Homo sapiens: one gene and its partner. The protein of the gene in region 2 purifies or fractionates together with the protein of the main gene of each other region. This does not show direct contact. Each region holds a gene or a part of one and is shown on either strand. Other genes may lie near its edges. The genes, in order: MTCH2 and CPT1A.

Evidence for each region.
Region 1: the proteins of CPT1A (region 2) and MTCH2 purify together in Homo sapiens (affinity purification with mass spectrometry; 2 studies listed by BioGRID and IntAct, with this or other methods). This does not show direct contact.

The regions. Positions count from the first base shown.
Region 1 is NC_000011.10:47,627,762-47,643,817, forward strand, and holds the start of MTCH2 (mitochondrial carrier homolog 2), read right to left. Parts: upstream 14,799-16,056; 5' UTR 14,705-14,798; coding exon 14,618-14,704; intron 11,291-14,617; coding exon 11,206-11,290; intron 11,045-11,205; coding exon 10,938-11,044; intron 7,811-10,937; coding exon 7,784-7,810; intron 6,974-7,783; coding exon 6,911-6,973; intron 3,951-6,910; coding exon 3,893-3,950; intron 3,327-3,892; coding exon 3,275-3,326; intron 2,854-3,274; coding exon 2,794-2,853; intron 1,286-2,793; coding exon 1,192-1,285; intron 1-1,191. UniProt on the Homo sapiens protein: Protein insertase that mediates insertion of transmembrane proteins into the mitochondrial outer membrane. Catalyzes insertion of proteins with alpha-helical transmembrane regions, such as signal-anchored, tail-anchored and multi-pass membrane proteins.
Region 2 is NC_000011.10:68,775,640-68,784,216, forward strand, and holds part of CPT1A (carnitine O-palmitoyltransferase 1, liver isoform), read right to left. Parts: intron 6,321-8,577; coding exon 6,132-6,320; intron 5,107-6,131; coding exon 5,001-5,106; intron 1-5,000. UniProt on the Homo sapiens protein: Catalyzes the transfer of the acyl group of long-chain fatty acid-CoA conjugates onto carnitine, an essential step for the mitochondrial uptake of long-chain fatty acids and their subsequent beta-oxidation in the mitochondrion.

The DNA of each region.
Region 1 (16,056 bases), about 21 Mb from region 2:
ATTACAGCATGAGCCACCACACCTGTCTAAAACTAATTTTGAGGACAAAACCATAAAACACTGATTATTAGAATAATAAGGCAGTGGTCAAAATGATCAACCTGATTCAATATTAACAGACAAATTCATATTATACTAAAATGCTTTAGGGACGAATGTAAAAGGATTTCAAATACTAAAGAAAATGAGATTGATAACCTTTTCACACATCCTAGAAATACAGTCCCTGGAAAACCACATTTATAGTATATCTAAGGGACAATTCACTACCTTTGTTTTACACAGCTAGCTTTCTACCAGATGCGTTGAAGAAAATCCCTCTCTGTACTCAAGAGGTTTACAACATGGATTTAGTCATATACCCTGTGATGTGTTCAATTTATCATCATGCTATGGAGCTGCCGACATACAAGAGGCCCCACAACTGCTGAGATAAGAAAGACAACTTCTAGATAAGACTGATTCTCAAAAGGCTGAGGTTTCTAGAAAGCCCAATACAGGCACCCTCTTAAGTCCAGATTAGATGAAAAGCCCCCGATACACCATAAAGATGTCCTGCTTTCCCAGGTTCTCTCAAGTTAAGTATCAGTAAAGAAGTGATCTCTTTAAAGCCCTGAAGTAACACAGGGCTAAGTCTCTTGGGTATACTCTGTCACATCTTACGGACTTTTAACGTGTATCGTTCTACAGTAAACAGTATCGTTCTACAGTGAACAGTATGCTCATTTCATTAGCATTTGAAAATTTGACTGATAATTTTTAGCTATATAATTGTTCAGTCTGGCATGTAGCAAACTGTCATCTTGTTTATTTATTTATTATTTATTTTTTGAAATGGAGTCTCCTTCTGTCACCCAGGCTGGAATGCAGTGGCGCGATCTTGGCTCACTGCAACCTCCGCCTCCTGGGTTCAAGCAATTCCCCTGCCTCAGCCTCCCAAGTAGCTGGGACTATAGGCACGCACCACCACGCCCAGCTAATTTTTTCTGTATTTTTAGTAGAGACGAGGTTTCACCATGTTGGCCAGGCTGGTCTCGAACTCTTGATCTCAGGTGATCCGCCCACATTGGCCTCCCAAAGTGCTGGGATTACAGGTGTGAGCCACCTCGCCCGGCCCATCTTACTTTAAAAGCTAATCTAGCTGCCAGATTAAAGCCAAGGTGAGCACATCTCACGAAGGTCACAACCTACCCCACTGTCCAGTGCATAGGTATTGACGAGGTAGGCCAGTGAGTTACACAGCCACAAAGAAAGGATGTCACCTAGAAGGCGAGGAACAAGACCCCTACATGAAGAAACAATAAAAATAAGAACCAAAAAATGTGATCAGTAACATGACAGGCTCTTCAGTACAAATGTTTGTCAAATAATTAGAGGTCACAAAACATTCTAGGGAAGTAAAAAAGGAATCAAACACCAGAATCCAGCCCGCATACCTAGTTCATTCTCGTTAACACAGCTGTACTTGAAGCTGATCTCCAGTGACTTTTGTTCCTATGTTTAAAATGCAGGTCGGCTATACCCTCAGTGGCTCACCTTACTATTCATAACTGTAAGCAGGGAGGCAAAAGATTTGCGAGGTGCTTTGCAGAAGAGACTTAAATATTGTTTTGCTTTGACTAGCTTAAAAAAATGATTTTGCTAAGCTATCTGATATTCATATTTGGCAGAGCAAAAGACGAGAAAAATTACAAAGCAAGAATGGTCCCAAGTACAGATACAGATGAGAGGCATCAAAAACCACATTTCTAGGGTCTGGGTGACCTAGGTGAGGCAGCATGGAATAGTGGGAAGAGCATTTCCCCACGGATTGAAGACCAGCTTCAAATGCCAGCTCCAGCACTCAGCAGCGATGTGACAGGCAGCAGATGAAACTCTCAGAGCATCAATGTTTTTTAATCTCTAAAGTGATACTAATTATAGCTGTCCTGCCTATCTCACAGGGTATTTATGATATTCAAAATCCGTATGGGGAGATACTCTGAAAATTAAAAAAAAAAAAACAAAAAACACCATTTCGGTAATGATGCAAAATTTTTCCTCATAGAAGAATGAGGGTAGTAGTCTAAGTTCTTCCAAAGTAAATTCAAGCCTTGCAAAAACTTACTCTTTTACGGTAAGGAAAATACAAGTTAAGATGATTTCCCCATTTTTCAACATTTAATTTTTCTCATTTTATTATCTATATAGAATTGGGAGTTTACTACAAGGGTAGAAACTTGGAATTAAGTCCTTTGTTAAAAAAAGAAATTCCTTATTTATTTATTAATTATTATTATTTTTTTGAGACGGAGTCTCACTCTGTCACCCGGGCTGGAGTACAGTGGTGCAATCTCAGCTCACTGCAACTTCCACCTCCCGGGTTCATGCAATTCTCCTGCCTCAGCCTCCCGAGTAGCTGGGATTACAGGCACACACCACCACACCTAGAGGTGGGGTTTTACCATGTTGGCCAGGCTGGTCTTGAACTCCTGACCTCAGGTGATCCAACCGCCTTGGCCTCTCAAAGTGCTGGGATTACAGGCGTGAGCCACCACGCCCGGCCTCAAATGTTTTAAGTATCTAGAAGTAAAGGTTTGGGATCTTTACAAGATAATTCTAGTCATATGGGGCCTAAATATGCCTTTCTGCAGAGAAAAAAGAAAAAAAAATAAGGGGCCTAAATAGAATGTAACGTGAGGTAAGCCCAGGGAGTACGTTTTCCCCAAGGATTAAACAAAGACTCACTATTCTTACTTTCAGAAAACGTTTCCCACTCATGCAAAAATTACACACTAATCAACATTTACTCACGCGAAAAATCCTAGAATGCCCTCTTCCCGATAGATGGTTATTATGGAATCACAAAGTCCACTACGTACACAAGAAGAAAAGGTAAAATATATTAAGATTCTTTTGGAGCTATAAACAAAATAATTTCAATTATCACATTGGACAAGGTCAAATCCACGACCTCCTTCCCTCACACTTTTCTAGCACTCTCTCACTCTGCAAAGATAGCTAAATTTGGAGATAGAAGTGAAAATATTAACTACCTAGGGGTATAGTCATATGGAGTCAGGGGCTCTGCAACTTACTCTGAAATCCTACGTAGGCTACTAAACCTGCCTGGGTATATTTTCTCCCATTTTATTGTTTTTTGTGCAGATCAAATGACATCAGATACGAATTTGTTCTACAAATTGTAAGGGTATCATAAAAATACAAAGTAGTATTATTCTAGTACTTTGGCTTCAAAAGATCTCCTTGAGTATGTGAAAACAAAAATACTTACCAGTACTTGGATTCTCTGCCAATGAACTGTACCATAGATCTCAGAGTGATCACTGTGGAATATAGAGAAAAGATGTTTACAACTATGTTAAGGCCAGGTGCGGTGGCTCACACCTGTAATCCCAGCACTTTGAGAGGCCGAGGTGGGCGGATCACCTGAGGTCAGGAGTTCAAGACTAGCCTGACCAATATGATGAAGCCCCATCTCTACTAAAAATACAAAAATTATCCAGGCGTGGTGGCATGCACCTGTAATCCCAGCTCCTTAGGAGGCTGAGACAGGAGTACTGCTTGAACCCGGAAGGCTGAGGTTGCAGTGAGCCAAGATTGTGCCATTGCACTCCAGCCTGGGCAACAAGAGTGAAACTCCGTCTCAAAAACAAAAAACAAACAAACAAAAAAAAACTATGTTAAGATAGATTTTGATAGCCCTGGGAAAAAAAAAGATTTTCCACCTAAAGACATTTTGCTATCTGGATAAATTGGATAAAAGCCAAAACAAGCAAGCAAACAAAAACATGCAGGCAAGGCATTTTAGTCAACTCCCACGTCAACCTATCTAAGTGGTCAGGAGAGATCAGGTTATAAAAGAAAGGTCAGTTGTCAACTGCAAACATACCATGGAAGGGATGTGTGATGAGGGTAGCAGCAGAACGAGCGATCATCTCTCGAGTTGTCTAGAAACAATCAACACACACTTCTGAAATCTAAACAAATGACACTCAAATGCCTGTGAGAAGGAATGTGGGTGGATATCGTGGTATAGGATAAGAAAGTGAATGACACAGCCCTCCTGCCCTGGCTGGAGTCAAGAAGAGTTTGAATGGGATGTGAAAGATCTCATTCATTGTCATTTTATCATACTTTTCACTCATGGATCTCAATGTTCTATTATAGTTACTTCTCAAAATTTCTCTGCAAAGCAGGCTTCTGTTGTTTTCTCAATTTTACAGGTAAGAGAAAAAAATAAAGAAACAGGAAAGGTCACCAACAAAGTCATTAAGCTGAAATAAAAAATATGAGGCCTTTATTGAGATTATTAAGTTGCTCTCTTATTGGTAAGTGATTTTGGAGAGTCTGACATCATTCTAGATAAATGACAGGCTCCATTTAGTCTCTACTCACATTTTTGGGAGAAGAGAACAATTTTGTTTTGTGACTACAACCCAGTAACTGTGCAGTATCTTAGAGCTGCTGTGTTTTTCCTAGTTTATCTTTCTACTCTAGGGCTCTGTAAGGAAGTAATAAAGAAAATTAAATTATAATCTTTGCATTTAGGTTCTGGGATTGCAAATGTAAGCAGGTCTACCATTGGCTTTTGCATTTTTTTTTTTTTTTTAGGACAGTCTTGCTCTGTCACCCACGCTGGAGTGCAGTGGCGCGAACTCGGTTCACTGCAAGCTCCGCCTCCCGGGTTCACGCCATTCTCCTGCCTCAGCCTCCCAAGTAGCTGGGACTACAGGCACCCGCCATCATGCCCGGCTAATTTTTTTTCTTTGTATTTTTTAGTAGAGACGGTTTCACCGTGTTAGCCAGGATGGTCTCGATCTCCTGACCTCATGATCCGCCCGCCTCGGCCTCCCAAACTGCTGGGATTACAGGCATGAGCCACCGTGCCTGGCCGGCTTTTGCATTTAAACAGTATCTTTATGGTCACTGAGTTTTTTCTTTTCTTTTTTTTTGAGACAGAGTCTTGCTCTGTTGCCCGGGCTGGAGTGCAGTGGTGCGATCTCAGCTTGCTGCAACCTCCACCTCCCAGGTTCAAGTGATTCTCCCGCCTCAGCCTCCTGAGTAGCTGGGATTACAGGCACACACCACCATGCCCAGTTAATTTTTTTTGTATTTTTAGTAGAGATGGGATTTCGCCATGTTGGCCAAGCTGGTTTTGAATGCCTGACCTCGTGATCTGCCCGCCTCAGCCTCCCAAAGTGCTGGGATTATAGGTGTGAGCCACCACACCCGGCCTAGTCACTGAGTTTTAAGACAGCCCTCACCCCTTCTCCAAGGGCATAAGATCCTATGGGACTGGATGGGCAAACTAAGGAAAATACTAATTGCATAGTAATACATGTATCCCTGCTTTTTTTTTTTTTTTGAGAGGGAGTCTCGCTGTCTCCCAGGCTGGAGTGCAGTGGCGCAGTCTTGGCTCACTGCAAGCTCCACCTCCCAGGTTCACGCCATGCTCTTGCCTCAGCCTCCCGAGTAGCTGGGACTACAGGCGCCTGCCACCATGCCCAGCTAATTTTTTTGTATTTTTCGTAGAGACGGGGTTTCACCGTGTTAGCCAGGGTGGTCTCAATCTCCTGACTTCGTGATCTGCCCGCCTCGGCCTCCCAAGGTGTTGGGATTACAGGTGTAAGCCACCACGCCCGGCCGTATCCCTGCTTTTAAGCAAACTAATTTCATGAAAATTTACAGAAAATAGAGCTAATTTATCTGGTTTCCAGACCTTTAGTAATGTTTGTTTTGGAATATATATATATATATATATATTTTTTTTTTTTTTTTTTTTTTTTCTTGAGATGGAGTCTCACTCCTGTGGCCCAGGCTAGAGTGCAATGGTGCAATCTTGGCTCATTACAACCTCTGCCTCCCGGGTTCAAGCCATTCTCCTGCCTCAGCCCCCCAAGTAGCTGGGATTACAGACATGCGCCACCATGCCTGGCTAATTTTTGTATTTTTAGTAGAGACGGGGTTTCTCCATGTTGGTCAGGCTGGTCTCCAACTCCCAACCTCAGGTGATCCGCCCGCCTCGGCCTCTCAAAGTGCTGGGATTACAGGCATGAGCCACTGCGCCCAGCCTTTGGAATATGTATTTTGGATGGCTGCATTTCCTGGATAATTGTGACTTCATTAATGACAATTAAGACAATGTGAAGACTTAAGTAATAAGAGAATAGTTCTGAAAGCCAGGCACAGAAACACCTATGGCAGCATATGGGGGTGGGAAATGGGTGATGAGGAACTTTTCAGAGTCAGAAAAATGTCAAAAGAGCCTTTCTGCATAGATACTATCCAACATACAAAGGGCCTGGTCGCTATTTTAATACTTTTTTCTAAAGACAAGGTCTTGCTCTATCACACAGGCTGGAGTATGGTGGCACAATCATAGCTCACTGCAGCCTCAACTTCCTGGGCTTAAGTCATCTTCTCACCGCAGCCTCTCGAGTACCTGGGACTACAGATATGTGCCACCACACACCTAGCTAATTTTTCTATTTTTTTTGTAGAGAGGAAGTCTCACTATGTTGCATAGGCTGGTCTCTAACTCCTGGGGTCAAGTGATCTTCCTGCCTTGGCCTCCCAAAGTGCTGGGATTACAGGCGTGAGCCACCACACCTGGCCTATTTTAACACTTTTATTCCTGAGGTTTTCAACACTATTAGAAGACTTTCAGTATTCTAAAGACGGAATGTGTGGGCAAAATGAGTTTTCTTGAAATGCATCTATTCTGAACAGCAAGCACTGATCCTCTCTCTTTTTAATGTTATACATGTAGTAAAGCCCAAATTAATTTGAAGGTTTAATTTCATTTGGGAACAGACACTGAACACACAGGCCTGATGATTCTGATTCCATAGTTGCAACACCACAGTTTGATCTGGGCAAACAGCACAGGATGTAATTCATCTCTTACCTCCTTGATAACGTGGTCAAAGGAAGATGAGACTTCTTTCTGTACATTTCCAGGTCCTAACTCCTGGAAATCAAAATCAAAGAAAATAGAGATCTTGATTTTTTTTTTTTTTTTTTTTTGAGACAGAGTCTCGCTCTGTCGCCCAGGCTGGAGTGCAGTGGCACAATCTCGGCTCACTGCAAGCTCCACCGCCTGGGTACAAGTGCTTCTCCTGCCTCAGCCTCCCAAGTAGCTAGGATTACAGGTGCTCGCCACCACGCCCTGCTAATTTTTGTATTTTTAGTAGAGACGGGGTTTCACCGTGTTAGCCAGGATGGTCTCGATTTCCTGACCTCGTGATCTCCACCTGCCTCGGCCTCCCAAAGTGCTGGGATTACAGGCATGAGCCACCATGGGCGGCCGATCTTGACGGTTTTTATTTCTTTTGAGATAGGGTCTCGCTCTGTCACTCACGCGGAGTGCAGTGATGTGATCATGGATCACTGCAGTCTTGACGTCCTGGACTCAAGTGATCCTCTCACCTCAACCTCCCATGTAGCTGAGATACAGAGGTATGTGCCACCAGGCCCCGCTAATCTTTGATTTTCTGTAGAGAAGGGGTCTATGTTGCCCAGGCTGGTCTCAAACTCTTAGATGCAAGTGATCCTCCCACCTTGGCCTCCGAAACTGCTAGGATTACAGGCATGAGCCACCATGCCCAGCCATCCTGATGGTTTCAAACAGAACTGTCCAAACTGGTGGCCACCCCATAGGACAACACTCACTGAGATGAATAGGAGACTGACTACTTGGCTTTTCTCCAAAAGAGGCCCCAAAAGCAGTAACAACTTGCAAGGGAAAGGCCCTCATGCTTAGAAATCAGCTCCAACATACCTCACCCTTGTCACTCTCCTGGTAATGCTATAGAAAAAAAGAAAAAGGATGATTAGGGTTATTACAGTGTCATGTGAAAGAAGACATAAAATGAAAACTCTACTGACAGAAAGTAAATTAGCTGAAGTTTTTTTTAAAGTTTTTGTTTTTTTTTTTAAGCTGCAAATCTTCAGTTAACTTCTACTCATTAATCAACTGGAAATATGGATCTCCAAGATAAACTTGTTGCTAAGTTTAACATATTGGTCAGTTGGAAGAAAAGCAAATGGTCATGAAAACTCTTCTTTGAAAAAAGAAAAGGGGACAGGTGTGGTTGCTCATGCCTGTAATCCCAGCACTTTAGGAGGCCGAGGTGGGCAGATCACCTGAGGTCAGGAGTTCAAGTCTAGCCTGGCCAACATGGTGAAACCCCATCTCTACTAAAAATACAAAAATTAGCGGAGCATTGGGGCGCACGCTTTTAATCCCAGCTCTTAGGGAGGCTGGGGCAGGAGAATCACTTGAACCCAGGAGGCAGAGGTTGCAGTGAGCCAAGATCACGCCACTGCACTGCAGCCCAGGTGACAGAGCAAGAGTCCGTCTCAAGAAAAAAAAAAAGAAAAGGGAAGGCTGGGTGCGGTAGCTCACGCCTATAATCTCAGCACTTTGGGAGGCCAAGGCAGGTGGATCACCTGAGGTTAGGAATTTGAGACCAGCCTGGCCTACGTGGTGAAACTCCATCTCTACTAAAAGTACAAAAATTAGCTGGGCTTGGTGGCGGGCGCCTGTAATCCCAGCTACTTGGGAAGCTGAGACAGGAGAATTGCTTGAACCCGGGGGGTAAAGACTGCAGTGAGCTGAGATCACATCACTGCACTCCAGCCTGGGCAACAGAGCAAGACTCCATCTCAGAAAAAAAGAAAAGGGGCCGGGCATGGTGCCTCACGCCTGTAATCCCAGCACTTTGCGTGGCTGAGGCAGGCGGATCACCTGACGTCAGGAGTTTGAGAACAGCCTGGCTGACATGGCGAAACCCCCTCTCTACTAAAAATACAAAAATTAGCTGGGCGTGGTGGTAGGTGCCTGTAATCCCAGCTACGTGGGAAGCTGGGGCAGGAGAATTGCTTGAACCCGGTAGGTGGAAGCTGCAGTGAGCCGAGACCATGCCATTGCACTCCAGCCTGGGCAACAAGAGTGAAACTCTGTCTCAAAAAAAAACAACAAAAAAACCCAAAAAACGAAAAGGGAACATGCGCAGTGACTCACGCCTGTAATCCCAACACTTTGGAAGGCCGAAGAGGGAGGACTGCTTGAGCCCAGGAATTCAAGACCAGACTGGGCAACATAGTGAGACTTTGTCTCTAAAAAAATAATAATAAATTTAAAGAAATAATTACAAAATAAGAACAACAACAAAAAAGAAAATTCAAGAACTCTGTTTTTTTTTTTTTTTAGATGGAGTTTCACTCTTGTCACCCAGCTGGAGTGCAATGGTGCAATCTCGGCTCACTGCTGGAGTGCAATGGTTCAATCTCAGCTCACTACAACCTCTACCTCCCAGATTCAAGCGATTCTCCTGCCTCAGCCTCCTGAGTAGCTGGGATTACATGCGCCCACCACCACGCCTGGCTAACATCTGTATTTTTAGTAGAGACAGTGTTTCACCATGTTGGCCAGGCTGGTCTCAAACTGCTGACCTCGGCTGATCCACCCGCCTCAGCCTCCCAAAGTGCTGGGATTACAGGCATGAGCCACTGCGCCTGGCCAAGAACTTTCAGTTTTAACAGAAAATAAGTCAGTAAAAACATAGCCCAGGGTTCCCACTTTTCTCATGGAAAACGCATGACCAATACCAAATTAGGGCAAGACTCTTTTCTTCCCTGCATAAAAGGACAGAGAATTGATATTAAGACTGAAGAGCTGAAATCGCCTCACTTTCTCCTTTGTATCTGATGGTTTCTAAAACAAGCAAGAGGTTTTTTTTTTCTCTTCTAGAGAAGAGATCATGAATACTGCCAGAGCCCAGAGAAAAATTCTTGCAAGAGGAATTTTTTGTGGCGTATTTTGGAAATAGAATGTGAGCTAGGTGAAAATAAAATTATCAATTGAGAGCTCCTTCTTGTGTAACCACCAGTTTTATTGTTTTCTTATTTTTTAATGTCAGTTTTATTATTTTCTAGCCATATCAGATTTCAAAAATAGACAACATTTTCTCTTGTAAAAAGAATTGTGTTTAAAAAAATCACGGGCAAGAGAACAAATGTGAAGATAAAGCAAAGTAATGTATTTTGGCCAAATTCCAGGTCCTTGGCTAGAATTAATTCTAATAGCTTCAGGTCTCTAAATTTTCACTTGTTTCTATACTTTGTTATTTACTCCATCGATATAATTATCTAACCTGTCTTCTACATTTCCTGAATTTCATTTTAATTCTTGTTCAGTTTACAAAATTATTTCTTGTAAAGGTTAATAATTTTCTCAGCCCTGCATAGATCCTTCTTCTTGACTGTACAAGCAGCTTTGGATGCTAAGTGTAGTACCAACCCTGTAATATTTCACTGGACTACATTTGGAACATATTCAGGGTACCTGGTTACCTCAAGTTTGTCTTACTTTACAGTTACATAAAGTAACTTAGTCTCAAGCAGCACTTTCTCTTTTTCTCTAAGTCTATACACAAACCTCTTTGGCTAGATGACAACTGCCTTTCCATATGTAAATTTCATGGAAGTAACAGCAACAATTTCACTGAGTCCCGCCGGGCGCGGTGGCTCATGCTTGTAATCCCAGCACTTTGGGAGGCCGAGGCGGGCGGATCACGAGGTCAGGATATTGAGAACACGGTGAAACCCTGTCTCTACTAAAAATACAAAAAATTAGCCGGGCGCAGTGGCGGGAGCCTGTAGTCCTAGCTACTCAGGCTGAGGCAGGAGAATGACGTGAACCCGGCAGGCGGAGTTTGCAGTGAGCCCAGATCGCGCCACTACACTCCAGCCTGGGCGACAGAGTGAGACTCCATCTCAAAAAAAAAAAAAAAAAAAAAGAAAGTGTTTTTCAAGAGGAAGAAAGGACAGGGTTATAAATGTATCTTTTAAATTGCTCTTGATATTTAGAACAAACTATGCATAACAGGTAAGCAACATCTATGGGAAGATTGATTTAATTTTCCTCTTACCTGTAAAACTTTACCATGGACCACAGTTCCAAGGACTCCCGAACACAGTCTTGGAGTTAAGCCTGTGAACAACCCGCGCCTCCCATCGATACTGGCAATGTGCTGAGCTAAGAACACAAGTCAGAGATGTTGTCAAGTTCTGGTCAAGAGAAATGGATATACTACAATTTCAAAGAAACAAGCTTTCTATATATTTTCTTTCAATAACAACTCCTGCCTATCACAGTCCTCAACGTCATGCAAACCCAAATAAATCAAAGGCACTTACCATAACTAAAGAGACCAGGAAGCTGACACACTTGCCGCCCAAAAATATTTCGTCCTATTGTTGGAGGAAGAGGCTCATATCCCACCTTTAAAAACAATGGAATATATCAATATTAAAGCAATATTTCCAGAAATGTCTTGCTTGCAAGGTCTTGAATAAAGAACACAATTTGGGTTATTTTTAAACACAAGTAAAAATGCAGCATAGGTTTTCCAAGGCAATGATGAAGCATCATTCTTGTAGGTTTTTCTTCTGTTGGTAATACTGAGTTCAATAAACTCCAAGTTTCATTTTGGTTCAAATTCTATGACGTAAACCATGTAGCTGAAATAGGCTAATATCAAACTGAAAGAAGGGAACTTTTGCGTTAGGAAAGCTACAGTTTACTAAGGGGGCTCAAAAATACCTTCTAAATAAAATCTAAGGCACATTTTGTATTTGAACAAAACTAGAAGACATCCATTACGCCAGCATCAGCTGCATATTTGGCAACCCAGACAAAACACTCAAAAGGCAAATGCAGATATAGCTGGATAATTCACTTAGGAAAGAATTACAAGCTAACTTCATGTTAGAAGAACAGGCTGTCGGTCGGGCGCAGTGGCTCATGCCTTGTAATCCCAGTACTTTGGGAGACCGAGGGGGATGGATCACCTGAGGTCAGGAGTTCGAGACCAGTCTGGCCAACATGGTGAAACCCTGTCTCTACTAGAACTAAAAAATTAGCCGGGCGTAGGGGCGGGCGCCTGTAATCTCAGCTACTTGGGAGGCTGAGGCAGGAGAATCACTTGAACCCGGGAGGCAGAGGTTGCAGTGAGCCGAGATTGTGTCACTGCACTCCAGCCGAGGCCGACAACAGCGAGACTCCATCTCAAAAACAAACAAACAAACGAACAAACAAAAAAACACAGGCTGTCATTAACAGCTAATGAAGTCCATTTTATATAGTTAATGATTACCATGGTCTTTGTACAATATACCCAGGATTTTTAACACTACAGATACTTGACAGAATGAATGCTGTAGGACATAGTTTTGATTATTGTTGTGACTCTTAATCTGTCCTATTAAGTAACTCCTGGGCTGGCGTGGTGGCTCATGCATGTAATCCCAGCACTTTGGGAGGCCAAGGTGGGCGGATCACCTGAGGTCAGGAGTTCAAGACCAGCCTGGCCAACATGGTGAAACCCTGTCTCTACTAAAAACACAAAAATTAGCCAGGTGTGGTGGCGGACACCTGTAATCCCAGCTACTCAAGAGGCTAAGGCAGGACAGTCGCTTGAACCTGGGAGGCGGAGGTTGCAGTGAGCCGAGATTGTGCCATTGCATGCCAGTCTGGGTGACAAGAGCAAAACTCCATCTCAAAAACAACAACAAATAAATAAACAAATAACTCCTGTCTGAGCTCCCTGAAAGTGCTACCAAGTAACCATTTTTATTTTTATTTAGTTACTTATTTATTTTTTGGAGACAGAGTTTCGCTCTTGTCGCCCAGGCTGGAGTGCAGTGGCACGATCTAGGTCACTGCAACCTCCATCTCCCAGGTTTAAGCCATTCTCGTACCTCAGCCTCCTGAGTAGCTGGGATTACAGGCACCCACCACCACACCCAGCTAATTTTTGTATTTTTAGTAGAGAGGGGGTTTTGCCATGTTGGCCAGGCTAGTCTTTAACTCCTGACCTCAGGTGAACCGCCTGTTTCAGGCTCCCAAAGTGTTGGGATTTACAGGCGTGAGCCACCGTGCCCGGCCCAAGTAACTATTTTTACAACTGAGCATTTGGGAATTTCACCAAAACTCCTGGGCTACTTGGCAACACATAGATGTTGTGAAATCAGAATTAAGAATATTCAAAGTTTTTGGGGCAAGAGCTCTGAACATCATTAGAAAACCCCGTCTCCCAGAGAAGTATTGAGTAGTGGGTTCTTTTTTGTTTTGTTTTGTTTTTTTGAGGCTGAGTTTTGCTCTGTTGCCCAGGCTGGAGTACAATGGCGCGATCTCGGCTCACTGCAACCTTCACCTCCCGGGTTCAAGCGATTCTCCTGCCTCAGCCTCCCGACTAGCTGGGATTACGTGCACGCACCACCACACCTGGCTATATTTTGTATTTTTAGTAGAGACGGGGTTTCACCATGTTGGTCAGACTGGTCTCAAACATCGACCTCGTGATCCGCTCACCTCGGCCTCCCAAAGTGCTGGGAAGGCGTGAGCGAACGCGCCCGGCCCCAAGGGTTCTTACTATATACTGCAACATGCTGTCACCTCCGATGCTATCTAGCCCCAAATGTGCCAATTCTGTTTTGGATGTTACAGTACATTCTAATCAGTCTTTGTTCTAAGTACAAAGAATTTATTTGCAATAGCCTTTAACATATGGAATCTGAATTCACACAGGTCTACTCAGCAAGAAATAATTTGGATTCCCAACAACTCAAGAATAAGAAATGGGGCCCTCTCTAGTGTCTTGCCTATTTTTTACAGAAAAGTAGACGGCGAGACAGGGGTTCTAAAAACTGTTCCATTCCTAGGCACAGTGCATGAGGTAATTATGTCAACTCTCAGTAAAAGCATAAAAAAAAGAATGACCTGCCCATTACAGGGATATAGCAAAGGAACTGGAAACACTAAGTCTATCACTTACTTGGCCTACCTGCATGTGAATATAAAATACCATGTAATAATTATTTGACAGTAGATTAGAAACTAACTCCCATGTTTAAACTCGCTAAAACTCAGCTTCACTAATTTCCAGCTCTGACAAATGTGATTTTCATTGTCAGGAGCCACATGGGCCGCTGCTGGAAAGCGCTCAATGCATCCTTCCGAAATCTGACAGAGCAACCCCTTCATTAACACTTCTGAATGAGCTCCTTGTGTTTCTCTCAGTATCTGGTGCGAAAACCTCGGAACAGAAAAGCAGTAGTAACAGTAGCATAAAAAGAAAAAAAAAAGGAATAAAAAATAAAATGTTGGTTCCCACCTAACTTCACATTTGTCTTCAACTGAGTATTTCGTGTTTTGCGTCTGAGATTTTGGGGGGAGTAGTGGTGAATGTGAATTTCGGAGGGGCGAGAGGGAGGGTTCGGAAGCCTTTGGTGGCGACCGGCCAGGATCCACCTCAGTGACGAAGAACCAAAGTTCAGAGGATCCGCCGGGCAGGGCAGGGCCGGGTGGCGGTTGGCTAAGGGAGGAGAGGGCCTCAACGCTGGGCGGCGAGGCGAGGGCTCGGCGAGGCCCCCAAGCGGGGCCGCGGGACTGAGGAAGCTGTCCCTGCGGGGAGGTAAAGGGCAGCGGAGGAGCAGCAGCATCTCGGGAGAATGAAAGGCCCGCAAGGCTGAGCCGATCCTCAGGCGCCCTGAGCAGCAGCGACCGAACGGGGCGCCGGGCGGGGTAGGGAGCGGCGACGCCTCATACCTGGATGAGCACTTTCACGTACATGAGCGGCTGGGACAGGATGGTGAGACCGGAGCCCAGGAGCACCTGACTGGCCGCGTCCGCCATGATGGCACCCGCGGGCGGACGGACAGACAGACGGAGCCACCAAGCGACCCGGTGAGCCGGTCCTAGGTCACGTGCCAGGGCCGCCGGTTTCACTGGCCCGCCCGCGGCGCGCGCGCACGCACGCAGCAGCACGCGCCTCTCCGCCCAGTCCCCGCCCCCCCGTCCCGCCCCGAGAAACGGCAGGCGCTCGCGAGGGGGCGCTGAGGTCGGGGCGGGGCTTAAGGGACAGAGGCGCATGCGTTCTGCCGGGGGCTCGCCCTTCACCAGGAATGACGGTTTCTCTTGCACATGCGCTTCCAGGCCGCAAGTGTCCGGAAACAGAAGAATGGGAGTGTCAGTGGGGGAGTGTGACCGTGACGGCAGAGGCAAGGTCAGAGGACTGAAAAGAAATTGAAAAGGATTCTTCATTATGCTTCATCTCTGCACTTGCCTTTTGGGCATCATCAACATAGGATTCAAAAGATACTCAGCATCAGAGCCGTAACAGTCTCGTGACTGACAAACTCTAAATAAGTATAGCAAATAATGAATCCGCTAGCGAGTGGCTTTTCATTCATTTATTCGTTTGATTAATGTTATCTTTTCAAAAAAACCTTCTCTGACCATTCTAAAATTACCTCCCCCTTTTCTTTTTCTTTCTTTTTTTTTTTTTTTTTGAGACGGAGTCTCGCTCTGTCACCCAGGCTGGAGTGCAGTGGCCCGATCTCAGCTCACTGCAACCTTCGCCTCCCAGGTTCAAGCAATGCTCCTGCCTCAGCCTCCCTAGTAGCTGGGATTACACGCACACGCCACCACGCCCGGCTAATTTTTGTCTATTTAGTAGAGACGGGGTTTCACGATGTTGGCCGGGCTGGTCTCAAACTCCTGACCTCGTGATTCACCCGCCTTGGCCTCCCAAAGTGCTGGGATTACAGGAGTGAGGAGCCATCGCGCCTGGCCACCTCCCTCTTATTTTCTCCCACATTGTGCCCCGTCGTAGCATTATCACTGAAATTATGTCTCCTCCACTGGAATGAAAGCTCCATGAGTTCAGGAACCGTGACAGCCTCTGTTCACGGTTGTGTTTTCAGTGCCCAGCACATACGAGGTGCTCAATAAATATTTATTGCACAAGTGAACAAATACTTCAGTGCCTACCAGTCTACAGGCTATCAGAGGCAAAAGTGAAAAAGGCATTGTCCCTGCTCCTTCAGCCCCAGCTCACGTGTTCTATCAAACAACATTTGGTGAATCTGAGCTTGGAGCAGAGTGAAGTACTGTAGGGGAAAGACTTGGATTTGGATCCTGGCTTTTCCACTGCATCCATTTGTCATTTTAGCTACTTTAATTTCCAGTTTTTGTATCTAAATCTA
Region 2 (8,577 bases):
TTGCTCAAGTTTGTGACGCTCTCCTTTCACTGGCAAGTAAACCTAAGCCAATTTATTCAACGGTGTTTATTGGGCACCTACTATGGGTTGGAACCACTGTAGCATCAGCGGCATCCAAGCCCTGGTGACAGCGCAGACAAGAACTGTGTTTTGTGAACAAAACAGACAAGAATTCTTGCCCTTCCTTAAAAAGTGAAATATACCTGTATGACCCAGCAGTTCCACTCCTAGGTACATACTCACTGAAATGAAATGAATAGATGCTCACACAAAAACTTGTACAGAATGTTCAGAGCAGCATTATTCATAATAGCCAAAGAGTGGAAACAACACAAATGCCCATCAACTGATGAAGAGATAAACAAAGTGTGGTCAATCCATACAATGAGATATTATCCAGCCCTAGAAAGGAATGAATTCCAGGTATGTGTTACAACGTACTGAACCTTGAAAACATTATGCTGAGTGAAAAGAAGCAGGCAGGCGCGGTGCCTCACTTCAGTAATCCCAGCACTTTGGGAGGCCAAGGTGGGAGGATTGCTGGAGGCCAGGAGTTCCAAACCAGCTGGGCAACATAGTGAGATCTTATCTCTACAAGAAATTTTAAAAATTAGCCAGGTGTGGTGGCACATGGCTGTAGTCCCAGTTACTGAGGAGGCTGAGGTGGGAAGATCACCTGAGCCCAGGAGGTCATGGTTTCAATGAGTCATGACTGTGCCACTGCACTCCAGCCTGAGCGACAGAGCAAGACCCTGTCTCTAGAAAAGAAAGAAAAGAAAGCGAAAGAAAAGAAAAAAGAAGCCAGACATAGAAGACCACATATTGTATGATTCTATCTATATAAGATGTCCAAAATAGGCACATACATACACACAGAAAGATTAGTGGTCATCAGGAACCTGGGGGAGAAAGGAATGAGGGATTTCTTTTGGAGGTGATAAAAATAGTACAGAATTAGGCTGGGCTCTGTGACTCACGACTGTAATCCTAGCACTTTGGGAGGCCAAGGCGGGTAGATCACTTTAGGTCAGGAGTTCGAGACCAAGCTGGCCAACAAGGGGAAACCCCGCCTCTACCAAAAATACAAAAATTAGGTGGGTGTGGCGATGCACGCCTGTAATCCCAGCTACTCGGGAGGCTAAGCAGTGACTGTTGCACAAGCACCTCGTGAATATACTAAAAACCACTGAATTGTACACTTTTAAAGGGTGGATTTTAAGGTATGTGACTTATATCTCAACTAAAAAAATTAAGTTTTTTTAAAAGAGGAATCCCTGTGCTCAGGAAGCTTACATTCTAGTGAGGGAGGTAAAAACAACAACACAAGGTCGGGGTGACTGTCGGCTGGCGAGGCGGCGGGGCGGGTGGAAGGTGCCGCTAATACGTGGGGGTCACAATCCAGGCTGACCTGAGCCAGCGAACGAACAGACTTGATCAGGTTCCACCTGCTCTGGGTCAGAGCTCCAGAAGAGCCTGACACAGAAACATCAGAAATAAATCAAGAGCAAGACCGGGTGTGGTGGCTCATGTTAGTAATCCCAGCATGTTGGGAGGCTGAGGCAGGCAGATTGTTTGAAGCCAGGAGTTCGAGACCAGCCTGGGCAATGTGGCAAAACCCCGTCTCTACAAAAAATACAAAAATCAGCTGGGCGTGGTGGCGCACACCTGTGGTCCCAGCTACTCGGGAGGCTGAGGTGGGAAAATTACTTGAACCCAGGAGTTGGAGGTTGCAGTGAGCTGAGATTGCACCACTGCCCTCCAGCCTGGGTGGCAGAGCAAGACCCTGTCTCAAAAAATAAAAAATAAAAATAGAACAAGAACAAGAACAAACAGACTCAAGTTTGACTAGATCTGTCTTTAAGGGACTGCACTGGGCCCCCATGTGAGACTAGGTCAGTCCCCATCTGTGTATGGATCACATAAGCCCCCAGCCAGGGGTCCCTGGAGTCAGGCCATCCTGTCTGCTGGACGCTAACAACTAAACACCACTACTTCTACGTGCCCACCCTGGTCTAAGATAAAATCCCTTTATCCTTATCCAGAGAACTTTAAAAAACAAGCCTGATCTTGTAAATATCCAGTAGATTTCTCTACTTGATAAATGTACCCTGTGTGATCCAGCTGCCTATGGTCCCGACTCTTTTTCTTTTGCCAAACAACAGCTCTTAGGCATATAGGACTCGGGAAGTCCTTGGCCTGGGGTATAACAAGCCCGGGCTATTATGCTGTGCAGAGATTTATTAAAGCGTGCCTTCTTGCTACGTCCAGAGACACTGAAGGCAGCTTGATCTTCAATGCGCTCTGTAGCTAAAAGGCTCTCTCAGCTTTTGTCGACATCGCCAAAGAACCCTGGTGGTGGTGAAAAGCCCTTTTAATATTGGCTGCTTTTTATCAGGTATTAATGTCCTAGGGTCATACTGGTGTCTTAAAGCCTAGAGCACTATGTTTTTTTTTTTCCTTTTTATCCTTTTTCCTACATAGAAAACCTCCCTTGGCTGAAGGAGTGGCTGGAGGTTTTGCCAAGACTCCAACCAGAAGTAAGACAATTAAAAGAGGTAGAGGAAGATGAGACAGGAGCCCCTAACCTAGTCTTGGGAGAGGGTAGCAGGGCAGTGCCATTCCTAGGGGAAGTGAGGTCAGCTGAGACCTAAGGAAGACCTGACGGGGCCAGGAGCCAGGGGAAGCCAGGGGGAAAAGCCTTCCAGGCAGAGAGGAGAGTGAGTGCGAAGACTTTGCAAGAAAAAACTGGCACCAGAATTTGTTTATCTCTTGGGGGAAAAATAGACAGACACAATATTATAAAAAGAAACGTCAAGGCCAGGCGTGGTGGCTCATGCCATAATCCCAGCACTTTGAGAGGCCAAGGCGGGTGGATCACTTGAGGTCAGGTTTATATATATATAAAAATTATCCGGGCATGGTGGCATGTGCCTATAATCCCAGCTACTCGGGAGGCTGAGGCAGGAGAATCACTTGAACCGGGGAGGCAGAGGTGGCAGTGAGCTGAAATCGCACCACTGCACACCAGCCTGGGTGACAGAACAAGACGCCATCTCAAAAAAAAAAGTCAAAATTCAAAACATTCACAGAAGTTTAAAGAAAAAAGAAGGTCATACATTATGATGTCTTCACAAGTTTACTACTAATTTCTTTCTTTTTTTTTTGAGATGGAGTCTCACTCTTTCGTCCAGGCTGGAGTGCAGTGGCGTGATCTCGGCTCACTGCAAGCTCTGCCTCCCGGGTTCACGCCATTCTCCTGCCTCAGCCTCCTGAGTAGCTGGGACTACAGGTGCCAGCCACCACGCCCGGCTAATTTTTGTATTTTTAGTAGAGACGGGGTTTCACCGTGTTAGCCAGGATGGTCTCGTTCTCCTGACCTCGTGATCCGCCTGCCTCGGCCTCCCAAAGGGCTGGGATTACAGGCGTGAGCCACCGCGCCTGGCCACTACTAATTTCTAATTTCAGACACACAAACCCGGCTCCATGCCCTATCAAGAACAGCGAGGTGCTCAGCCTGCAGCTGGGCCCTGTCTCCCACACACGCCGTGACTTTCAGGTCATTTTATTCCACTTCATTTATTAGGCCAGCAGGAAAATTTAAAACACTGCAAAAAGATGGTCTTTATAGTCAATGTGAATCTCAAAGGGGCTTGTTGCTTTAAAAGAAAAAGATCTCAAGTCTCATCACAACAAGTGACCACAGTATTTTCTGTGTCAAGTCTACGGATGATGATCCTAGAATTTAGCAACTTTAAACAAGAACCTGACCGGTGAGTTAAGGAAACAAAACTTTCATTTAATTTCTCATGCCAAACACGGAACAGGTCAAACAGTTCAGAGTAACGAATTATTAAAAAAAAAAAAAAAAAAAAAAGGCTGAGTGTGGTGGCTCCCATCTGTAATCCCAGCACTTTGGGAGGCCCAGGCAGGCAGATCCCCTGTGCCCAGGAGTTCAAGACCAGCCTGGGCAACATGGGGAAACCTTGTTTCTACAAAAAATACAAAAATTAGCTGGGCATGGTGGCACACACCTGTAGTCCCAGCTACTTGGGAGGCTGGGGTGGGAGAATGTCTTGAGCCTGGGCGGTCAAGGCTACAGTGAGCTATGATTGTGCCACTGCACTCCAGTCTGGGTGACAGAGTAAGACCCTGTCTCAAAAAAAAAAAAAAAAACAATGGTAGAGGCCAATCCACAGGTGCAGGCAGGGGGACAGGGGTTTGTGGTTTTCAAATAACCTGGTAATTTTAAGAATTAAAATGATGTCTTAGGTAAAAGACACGCTGCATGTTTATAAACCCAGATTTTCACATGCTTGCTTCTATTTGGCCTAAAAAATGCGGTAGGTAGGAAACACTAGGAAATCCAGCACATAAGGGATAGTTTATTCCAGGAAAAACCGAGCTTCACTTCTGCTGTGAAGCTGCGGCCTGAGAGTCAACTGCCATTTCACTCTTTTGTTCCCTAAGGAGATGGCAGGAGATGCACTGCTGTTCAAGGGACCTAAGTTATGGGAAAGGAAGACAGGGATGCCTTTAATCTAGTGATTTAACTTCATGTGCATTACTAGTACAAGTGAAAAATTCATATTCTATAATCACGCAAATATTACAAAACTAAATTGACTGTGGGGTTTGGATTATCTTTTTTGTTTTTTCTTTTTGAGACAGAGTCTCGCTCTGTCGCCCAGGCCGGAGTGCAGTGGCACGATCTCGGCTCACTGCAACCTCTGTCTCCCGGGTTCAATCGATTTCTTCTGCCTCAGCCTCCCAAGTAGCTGGGGCTACAGGCATGCACCACCATGCCCGGCTAATTTTTGTATTTTTAGTAGAGACGGGGTTTCACCATGTTGGCCAGGCTGGTCTTGAACTCCTGACCTCAGGTGATCTGCCCGCCTCGGCCTCCCAAAGTGCTGGGATTACAGGTGTGCGCCACTGCGCCTGGCCAGGTTTGGATTTTCAAAAGCAACTTCCACATTCAAGTGAAAAGTGTGAAAACTCACCTCCCAAAGGTGGGCCACGATCGGCGCATCTGCCCAGGAGTGTTCAGCGTTGAGGCCCATCTTCCCGTTTTTGAAGACAACAAACGTGAACGACTTGTCAAACCACCTACGTGAAACACACATGTGTGGAACTTAAGTGTTTAAAGAGGCAACAATGAGGAGACATTGCACCTCTCTGCTTCATCCTGGATGGACTAATTCACTTTGCACCTGTCCCTCTAACAGTGAGCAGACACTCAGTCTCTGTGGAGTGAGGGTGAAAGTACAAACAGGACACTGAATCACTCATTTCTTCCCTGTCCCAGACACAAAGATGAGCGCTTATATCCTGGCAGCCTGAAGTCAGGACCTGTTGTTATCGCAAGGCAACTGGGGAGAGGTGGGAGGCTCTTCCCGTGGGCACATGACCCCTTCATCAGCCAATCCTTGGCTCCACCCTGCAGGGGGCGGGGCTGGCCAACACTTTACAGATAAGAAAAAGAGGACTTGAGATAGCCACATGCCAACACCCTGGCCTAACCCTGTGCCTAGCCCTGTTTGCCACTCTCCCCTGCCTGAGTCCAGGGACCTGGCAGCCCTGCATCTCATGAGCATCTCCAAACAAAGGTGGTCATGCACAGAGGAGGGAAGAATCTCAGATTTGCAGCTCAGGCTGTGTATGTGTGATAGTTTTGGCAGAGGGAAGAAAACTGAAGGTTGGCCAGGCGCAGTGGCTCACATCTGTAATCTCAGCACTTTGAGAGGCTGAGGTGGGTGGATCACTTGAGATCAGGAGTTCATAACCAGCCTGGCCAACATGGTGAAATCCTGTCTCTACTAAAAATACAAAAATTAGCCAGGCGTGGTGGCACACGCCTGTAATCCCAGCTACTTGGGAGGCTGAAGGAGGAGAATCGCTTGAACCTGGGAGGTGGAGGTTGCAGTGAGCCGAGATCAAGCCACTGCACTCCAGCCTGGGTGACAGAGCAAGACTCCATTTCAAAAAATAAAATAAAATAAAACTGAAGGTTATATTTTTATGCCACCTTCTTTCTTAGCATTATAGATACTTAGGGGTGAGTGTCAGGCACACAGGGTATTTCTTCCAAGCTCATGGGCAAACTCCTGTCTCTCAGAAGGTAAGGACGGTACCTGTCGTAACATCGGCCGTGTAGTAGAGATTTGGCGTAGCTGTCCATTGACGTATCCGGGTCTTCACTTCTGTATCCTTCTTCAGTTTCATCTAACGTCACAAAGAACGCTGCTTTCTCCACAGCATCAAGAGACTGCTTATTTTTCCCACGTCCAAAATAGGCCTGACGACACCTGGCCCAGGGAACTCTGCAGTGAAGATGAAATACGATTAAAGGCAGCCCGACCTGCAGCGATGGAGCGTGATGTTTGAAATGACACAATCAAACCTTTGCAGTTTTTCAGAATTTCTCGAAGGAAAACTCCATGTTGATGATGTTCCCCATCTGAGACTGTTTGCTGGAAGGACTCTCACCTGCTCCTGGTCTCCAGACCACAGCATGGGGAGCGGTGGGTATTTTTTGTTCAATAAATGCTGACTAAATGAACGGCCAGATTGCAGGCTGGCCCCGTGGGCAAAGCCGCCAGGAAGCAGCAGACCCAGATCACCCTGTTCCACGCTCCCTGACACACCCTCCCTCCCCTCTACAGGAACCACCCTAGGTAAGTTCCGGCAGCCCAGGTCACAGTAAGTGCGTAAGAGTGCGTCCCTCATGCCAGGCTCTGCTCCAAACCTTTTCTGTGTACCAACTTACTGATCTTCTCAATGCTACTGTACCTATTTTTCAGATGAGAAAACTGAAGCACGGAAAGATTAGGTCACAGCTATTTTGAGGCAGAGTCGGAACCCAGGCCATCAGCCCCCAGGTGCATTCCACAGATGCCCATGTGACCCCTCCACAAGGAGGTCTCCGTGCCCGTCTTATTTGAATACACAGAACTGGTGTGATGCCCACTTCCTTCTTGGAAGACCCACCAGCTGGGCTTCCTCGAGTGCTCCCGGGTCCCTCTCACTCCAGCTCCTCCAGGACCCTCTGCCACTGCCCACCCTTCCAGATCGGGGCCATCTGGCTCTCTCCCCACCTTCTTCTCTCTAGGAGTGCTTGGCTATGGCGGCCCGCAGGGCGAATAAGCCTAGAAACACGCTAGGCCTCAGTGCACCCCGCTCGGGGAACAAAGGTGACGCTGACGGTGGCCGGCACGTACGGAGCCCTTCCTGTGAATGACTCCCATGGGTAAGATGCTGATCTGGCCCTATCCAGAGGGGGCATCGGGACCGAGGCGCCTACAGACCCACAGGGAGCCCAGGCCCCGCGGCGCCGGCTCAGGCTCCCCACGTCTCCTCCGCTGGGGATTCCAGGCTCTGAGAGGAGGGCATCGGATGAGCGCATCTTCACCCGAGATGCATCTCCTGCCGCCGCTCTTTCCAGCCTTGTCAACACCACAGCAGATACCGAACAACGCCGGCTTGCCCGCACACATCCTCCTCCATCCCGCTCCTGCTCCCAGGCCTGGCCCTCTTTCAGGCCCTCACTACTTGGGCCACCGAAAAGCATCCCTGTGTCCAGGGCCCCTCCTCCCTGCCCAACCAGAAGAATCTCCCACATTAACCTACTCATGCACCCCCGGCCCCACCCCACCCTACACCACCTGAAGCGGCACCCAGTTGCAGAATCAAGCTCAAATATGATTGGGTGCCTGGGACCCTCCCCAGCTTGGCACCGTGGCCCAGCTGCCCAGCCCACTCCACGGCTCCTGCCTGCTCTGCTACCCCGGGGCATGCGGCTCCACCCCCTGGACACCCACTGTCCTCCTGGTCTGCTCCCACCCTCTGCAAGACACAGCCCACCTGCGGCCCCTCCACGCAGCACAGAACCTCTCCTGATCTTTGCAGAAGGGGCCCCAACACCTGCCCCTCCCGCCTTACTCCCAGCGATAGCGTAGCAGTTGTCACACTGCTGGAACGCAGCAGCTCTCAGCTGGGGACAACAGTGTCCCCCTGATGCTGGGCAATGTCTGCGACACTTCTGGTTGTCACACAGGTTGCTGCTGGCAGTCGGTGGGCAGAGGCCAGGGCTGCTGCTCAGCATCCAACGCTACACAGGGCAGTGCCCCCCACAAAGAGGTACCCGGCCCTGAGTGTGCACAGCTCTGAGGTGAGAAACCCTCCTATACAATACACACCACACCTGCGAGAAAACCAAGCTCGGGCTGATTCGCTTTCTTTTTTATGTTTTGAGACACAGTCTCACTCTGTCACCCAGGCTGGAGTGCAGTGCCTTGATCATGGCTTACTGCAACCTCAACTTCCTGGGCTCAAGCAATCCTCCTGCCTTAGCCTCCTGAATAGCTTGGACTACAGGCACGCACCACCAAGCCTGGCTAATTTTTTGGTAGAGATGGGGTCTCACTCTGTTGCCCAGGCACATCTCAAACCCCTAGGCTCAAGTGACCCTCCTGCCTTGGTCTCCTAAAGCAATGGAATTATAGGCGTGAGCCACTGCGCCCGGCCTGATTCTTTTTCACTGAGGCAAGGAAATGTAACCCTAACACAGGGGCCTTGGTT